Linked DNA regions of Homo sapiens. The protein of the gene in region 1 interacts with the protein of each later gene in a biochemical or structural test. Each region holds a gene or a part of one and is shown on either strand. Other genes may lie near its edges.

The links. Proteins that work in one complex are often made in the same cells at the same time.
Region 2: the proteins of PABPC1 (region 1) and UNK interact in a test that uses a peptide from one of them, tested with the Homo sapiens proteins (one large-scale study listed by BioGRID and IntAct).

The regions. Positions count from the first base shown.
Region 1 is NC_000008.11:100,705,089-100,708,588, forward strand, and holds part of PABPC1 (polyadenylate-binding protein 1), read right to left. Parts: intron 1,910-3,500; coding exon 1,799-1,909; intron 1,718-1,798; coding exon 1,563-1,717; intron 586-1,562; coding exon 501-585; intron 1-500. UniProt on the Homo sapiens protein: Binds the poly(A) tail of mRNA, including that of its own transcript, and regulates processes of mRNA metabolism such as pre-mRNA splicing and mRNA stability.
Region 2 is NC_000017.11:75,791,306-75,794,805, forward strand, and holds part of UNK (RING finger protein unkempt homolog), read left to right. Parts: exon of another isoform or gene 1-1,171; coding exon of another isoform or gene 1,172-1,173; intron 1,174-2,137; exon of another isoform or gene 2,138-3,500. UniProt on the Homo sapiens protein: Sequence-specific RNA-binding protein which plays an important role in the establishment and maintenance of the early morphology of cortical neurons during embryonic development.

The sequences.
Region 1 (3,500 bases):
ATAAAAAAAAGTTTTTAACTGCATTGAATTACCACATTAAACTGGGGTTTAAGAACCATACTTCTGTCTCACGTATATAATAACCCATAATCCACAATTTCATTATGTCTTCATGGGAAGACAGAATAAAATCTGCCACAAGGCAATTAACTCTTGATATTATCAGCTTGCCAATTAAGCAATGTTACCATTAGGTTGTTAAATCGGTGTTCAGGCAAAGTCACAAGTTTTCTTCTCATTTGCTTCAAATTCCTTCTCTCAAAAATGTAGTGAGGGCCCATGGTGAGTAATGCCCTACTACCCTATTTATTACTAACAATACATTTTCTTATTGGCTTTCCAGTGGTTTTAATTAGGCAGACCAACTGTACTATCATAATCATTCATGCCAATTCAGATCAATTCCACTGCCCTAGCTGTCAATTGATTGACCTAGTGCCTAAGTGATTCCTATATTTTCTAGTCTTTCTGAACTGACAAGGTGGGACAGAAGTACTCACCCAACATTTGCTTTTGCTCTTGAGGAGGGGCAGATGCCAACATGGAAGCAGTCAAAGGTTCCTGACCTTGTACATGAACAGCAGGCTAGACAGAAAATGAGAACTCTTAAGTTTAAAGCACAGAAAAAGATGGCAAATACAAATAGTCATCAATGGACATCTGCTGAAGTGGTAGACTTCCATCGAAACATGAGGTGGAGAAGTTGAGTGAGCGAATTAGAAAGAAGCCAAAGTAGTTATTATATACTATGTATCACAGATACATTTTTTTTCTTTTTGAGATGGAGTCTCACTTTGTCGCCCAGGCTGGAATGCAACGGCACAATCTTGGCTCGCTGCAACCTCCGCCTCCGGATTCAAGCAACTTTCCTGCCTCAGCCTCCCCAGTAGCTGGGATTACAGGCATGTGCCACCAAGCCTGGCTAATCTTTATATTTTTAGAGCTGGGGTTTCACCCTGTTGACCAGGCTGGTCTCAAACTCCTGACCTCAAGTGATCCACCTGCCTTGGCCTCCTGAAGTGCTGGGATTACATAGAGGTGTGAGCCACCACGCCTGGCCCATAGCTACTTGTAATAGTTGTTTCAGACCAGGCGTGGTGATTTAGGATGTGAATTTCTCGCTGCTTGTCCAATTCCAAAAGCGTAAGACATTTTACATACTATCATATTAGCAGAATGTTCCAGATAGGCTAAGCTCTCAAGAATCTATCATGCAGCTGTCTTCACATTTTTTCTTTTGAGACAGAGTCTTGCTGTCACCCAGCAGGGATTACAGCTTGCTGCAGCCTTAAACTCCTGGGCTCGAGCAATCCTCCTGCCTCAGCCTTCCTAGCAGCTAGGACTACAGGCTTATGCCACCACACCCAGCTAGTTTTCTTTGTGGAGACAGGGTCCTGTATGTTGCCCAGGCTGGTCCCAAACTCCTGGTCTCAAGCAATCTGCCTGCCTCAACCTCCCAAAGTGCTGGGGTTATAGGTGTGAGCCACTGTGCCCAGCTGTCTTCACACCTTTGATTTCACCCAAGAAATGTGATTTTTATTAAGAAATCATTAAATCCATACCTGTTGCATTGTAACTTGTGGCTGTGCATTAAGATGTTGCTGAGGATTGCGAACTCCTGCAGCATATTTATACTGTGGAACGGTGCGGACAGCAGGAGTAGCTGCAGCGGCTGCAGCTGCAGGACGTGGACCCATTGTCTGTGTTGATGTGTTAGCTAAAAAATAAGAACATTTTGTATTTTTATCTTGCTCTTTCAAATTGGTGATCAATTTTTAAAGGAAGGATTAAGACTCACCAACACGCTGTGTTGACATGACTCGTGGAACCTGTGAAGAAGCTGGTCTCATAGTACTAAATGGTGGTCTAGGAGCAGCTGGGCGGATAGCACCGGGCATATTTTGGAATGCTGCATTTTAAAGATGTGAATATACATTAACTGGGAAAACTTACTGAGTGAAAAGTGTTTATGCTGTCTTCTTCGATCTGAGGTTTGCATAAAAGACTAAAAAGTGACAAAACTTTTTAAAGCTGAGTCTTAACACTTGCCATTTTCCCAGACTCAGAGCATCAATAAGTAAAAACATTAATTCATACAAGGACGAGTACTTATATGTAGCGACCAGCCCCACAGGGTCGGTGGGCTTCTCCCTGTATGCAGCGACGAGAGAGTGCAGAAATAAAGACACGAGACACAGAGATTTAAAAAAAAAAGACAGCTGGGCACGGGGGACCACTACCACCAAGACGCGGAGACCAGTAGTGGCCCTGAATGTCTGGCTGCACTGTTATTTATTGGAAACAAAACACAAGGGGCAGGGTAAAGAGTGTGAGTCATCTCCAATGATAGGTAAGGTCACGTGGGTTACGTGTCCACTGGAGAGGGGGCCCTTCCCCGCCTGGCAGCCGAGGCAGAGAGGGAGAGGAGACAGAGAGAAAGACAGCTTACGCCATTGTTTCTGCATATTAGAGACTTTTAGTACTTTCACTAATTTACTACTGCTATCTAGAAGGCAGAGCCAGGTGTACAGGATGGAACATGAAGGCAGACTAGGAGCGTGACCACTGAAGCACAGCACCATAGGGAGACGGTTAGGCCTCTGGATAATTGCAGGCAAGCCTGACTGATGTCAGGCCCTCCACAAGAGGTGGAGGAGCAGTCTTCTCTAAACTCCCCAGGGGAAAAGCAGACTCCCTTTCCCGGTCTGCTAAATAGTGGGTGTTTTCCTTTGACACTTACGCTACTGCTAGACCTCGGTCCGCCTGGCAACGGGCGTCTTCCCAGACGCTGGCGTTACCACTAGACCAAGGAGCCCTTTGGTGGCCCTGTCTGGGCATAACAGAAGGCTCGCACTCTTGTCTTCTGGTCACTTCTCACTATGTCCCCTCAGCTCCTATCTCTGTATGGCCTGGTTTTTCCTAGGTTATGATTATAGAGTGAGGATTATTATGATATTGGAATAAAGAGTAATTGCTACAAACTAATGATTAATGATATTCATATATAATCATATCTAAGATCTATATCTGGTATAACTATTCTTATTTTATATTTTATTATATTGGAACAGCTCGTGTCCTCGGTCTCTTGCCTTGGCACCTGGGTGGTTTGCCGCCCACACTTATAAATATACCTGAAACATAATCATGATAAAATTCTAAGTGCTCCCAGCCTGGCCAACAGGGCAAAATCCCGTCTCTACAAAAAATTTAAAAAATTAGCTGGGCGTGGTGGCGTGTGCCTGTAGTCCCAGCTACTTGGGAGGCTGAGGCAGGAGGATCACCTGAACCCGGGAGGTGAAAGCTGCAGTAAGCCAAGACCATGCCACTGCACTCCAGACTAGAAGAAAGAGTGAGACTCTGTCTAAAAAAATAAACTCTAAGTGCTCTTGGAATATAACATACTGTTCCACAGGACAAGACATAAAATACCACGACTCTGATTCTCATACATGATTAAATGGAACGAGACCTTTAAAACTGTGGCCTGACAAAATATG
Region 2 (3,500 bases), on another chromosome or scaffold:
TTTCAGGCAGTTTTGTCAGTTTATGTATTACGTAAATGTCATTAACTTCACTTGATTGCATCTGATTGTATTTTGGAAAATCCTGGACATGAACATGTATTTAAGTCATTATTGCAAATTACAATAAAATCGTGCATGCATTAGTAGAGTACTACTTGTTGCACAACAGAAGTCATTGGAAGCGTTGCTGAGCAACCTCAGTGAGAACGAGCTACATTACCAATAAACATTTCTGGATCTTATTTACTTGTTTATCAAGTAGAACTAATTTCTTGCAGGACAGAAATTAGGAGCTCATTGTAGCCTTCATTTAATCCCACAAAATCCCCGTTAAGTGTTAAGTGCCCTTGCTAAGGGTAGATTCTTAAACTTAACACCTAGTTGATATTTGCTATTATCTAAATTATTAAAGTCAAGATTTGCTTAATGGTTAAGTTTTTTTGTTTTAATCCAGCTATGTTAGATACTAAAGAAGGCTTCCCCACAACCCATATGCATCTGCTTTGACTGGTGGTTTCTATCATCCTACAAAGACTGTGACTTATTGGTGAGGGCAGCTGGACAACTCTGAGAGCAACTTAGAGAAATCCATCTTGGGCACACTCTATAAAGGAGCTCCTTCTCTGCAAATAGCACCCCAGATAAGTGCACAAAAGCAAGATACCCTCGTGGACCTACACGTCCTCCCGCTTTTCAACACCCTGATGCCTGAAGGTGAGGTCTCTTTCCTGTGTGTCTTAGAAGCCATGAGCACGCTTAGGTAACTAGAGCCCTGCCACAGCCTGAGCAGCACAGCACACATCTGCAGGCTTTCCTGCCAGACCTTTACCTAAAGGTAATTTTTCTCATTAGGAGAGACTCCAGGTCAAGAGTGATGACAGTAAGGTTGCATTTAAAGCTGCATTACATTAAATAGTGGACTGGTCTAGTGATTATTTTCCCACACTGGGCAATATTTGCTTAATGATTAAGTTTTTTTGTTTTTGTTTTTGTTTTTTTTAATCCAGCTATGGTTGATACTAAAGGAGGTTTTCCCACTATCCGTATGCATCTTCTCTGTTTTGAGATTGCAACTATGGACAGTTATGGCTAATCCTAGTAGATTGTCTTCCCTTTTAACATCTTGGATGAATTTGGGTCACACTAATTGTTATGTGAAGATGGATGTTGAATGTAAGTTTCTCTGCCATTCTTAGCCAATATATAAAAATTACATTAGCCTAATTGCTAACAATGCCAAGAATTTAGGTTTACTATCCCTCTGGACAATGTAGCTTCTTGTTTTCTTACCATATAGATAACTCTATAGATTCACCCCAGCCAGTCATCTTAAAATACCTGCATAGGCAGCAGAGGTATCTGTGGAGAAAGTGCATGGGATAATAGGTACAGGGTGATTTTGGGAGTGATGGAAATATTCTGGAATTAGATATGGTGAAGGTTACATAATGTGGGTGAATACACTAAAAACCACTGAAATGTACAAGTGGTGAGTTTGAGTGCTCTCTGAATTATATCTCAAATTGTTAAAAAGTTAATTAAAAAATCAGTGTATATGAGTCCCTCTTACCATAGAGAGGGCTTCAAGCGCATGGCCTATTGCCAAGGCTCAGCAACAGTGGTTCAGTGTGGGAAAGCCTGTGGTTTGCGCAAAGCTCCTTGGTGCCCTTTTCCCAGCTTTCTCAGTGGCTTAGGCCCTGTGTATCTATTCTAGTTGAATGCCGCCATGTTATAAGTCTGTGGAGATGTTTTGAGATAAGAAATACGTATTCAGAAAACAAGTTTGAGACTCTTAGGTGCTGGTAATTATACTTTACCTTGTCTCCAACTTGATAGCCATTCCAGGGAACAAGCAGATTTTTAGCAATGCCTTCATAAGATGAATCATGTCTACTTCCTGGGGTGGGTGGGAGGTGGAAGAGAAGTTTGCTGTCCTGCTAAAATGTAATAGAGTCCATTCTTCAGGTATCGTGAGTGTTTTAAGGTTTACATGGGCATTTCTTTAAGGACAGGCCATGTGTTTTAGGCATTTAAAATGATATCAATGGCTATACTATATTAGTTCAAGTAATCACAACAAACTTTTTATTATTTCTCTATAAAATCCCTCAACTTTCACCCCTTTTTTCTTTGCCAGTGTGTAGAATTTGACAGCAGTATCAAGAGCTGAGGAGAAGGAGAAGATGGAAAGGAGTCTAGCAACTTAAAAATCTCACAGCATTCTCTGTGAGGTGACCTTTTTTCCTGTTGGTGGCTCAATTTCTTTAGGACATAAAGAAGATACTGAGGCCTGTGACAGCCTGTGACAGTATCATCAAGTCGTATCTGAACTTATTGAACTGTTTCCTCCCCTTCCTTATTCTTTATTCACAGTTTGCTTTTCATGTGCATAAGTTGACTCATTTGTTTCCTGTTAGCATTTGAAACACCATATAGCCACCATAAGTCCTGACAAAATGACTTTTAATAAGGAGGGGGAAGGTCCATGTCCCACCTTCCTATGAAATTTTGGCCTATTCACAAGTCTACCCCCACATAAGAGAAGTAGTTATGTTCTGTAAAGAAGAGGTTGATAAAAACCTTTAGCATGGTGTTTTGTGACTTAGAAGTTTTAAGTAGTCGTTCTTATATCTAAGCATTTATTAATTTTGGTAAGAACATTACTATACGTTTCTGATGTCACTTTTACTGTTAAGAGGTGCCAGGCATCTGGTGACCTGTCACTTCAGGATTTGTGTGAATCAGACCATCTAAATATAATATAAATTAGAGACTGGTACTTGTATTTCCTGATTAAAAACAAAGTAACGTCTGTTTTACTATTGAAGTAAGAGTACTTTATAATGAATACAAAAATGTATATTAAATATCCAGTAGAGCATGCTAAAGTGAACATTTCTGTTTTTATTTCAGCAACTTATTTTATGGTATTGTAGTTATGGCCTGTCCGAAACTCTCTGACATATTCTAAACAGCTTTCAGAGAGTCACTGAGGCTTATTTGCTACTACTGTTGTTTTTCCTTTAGCTCAGTTAAGAAATGTTTAGTTAGCCGGGCATGGTGGCTCACGCCTGTAATCCCAGCATTTTGGGAGGCTGAGGCGGGTGGATTGCCTGAGGTCAGGAGCTCGAGACCAGCCTGGCCAACATAGTGAAACCCCGTCTCTACTAAAAATACAAAAAACTAGCTGGGTGTGGTGGCGGGCACCTGTAATCCCAGCTACTAGGGAGGCTGAGGCAGGAGAATCACTAGGACCCAGGAGGCGCAGGTTGCGGTGAGCCGAGATCACGCCATTGCACTCCAACCTGGGCAACAAGAGTGAAACTCCGTCTCAAAAAAAAAAAAAAATGCTTAGTTAATAGTCAGCATGGTAGTTAAGAGTACTGACTCCAGGGTCACACCACCTGGGTTTGAGGCCCAGCTCTGTCAGTTACTAGCTGTGAGATCTTGGGCAAGTGACTTACCTCTTTGTGTATCAGTTTCCTGAGAATAGGAATATT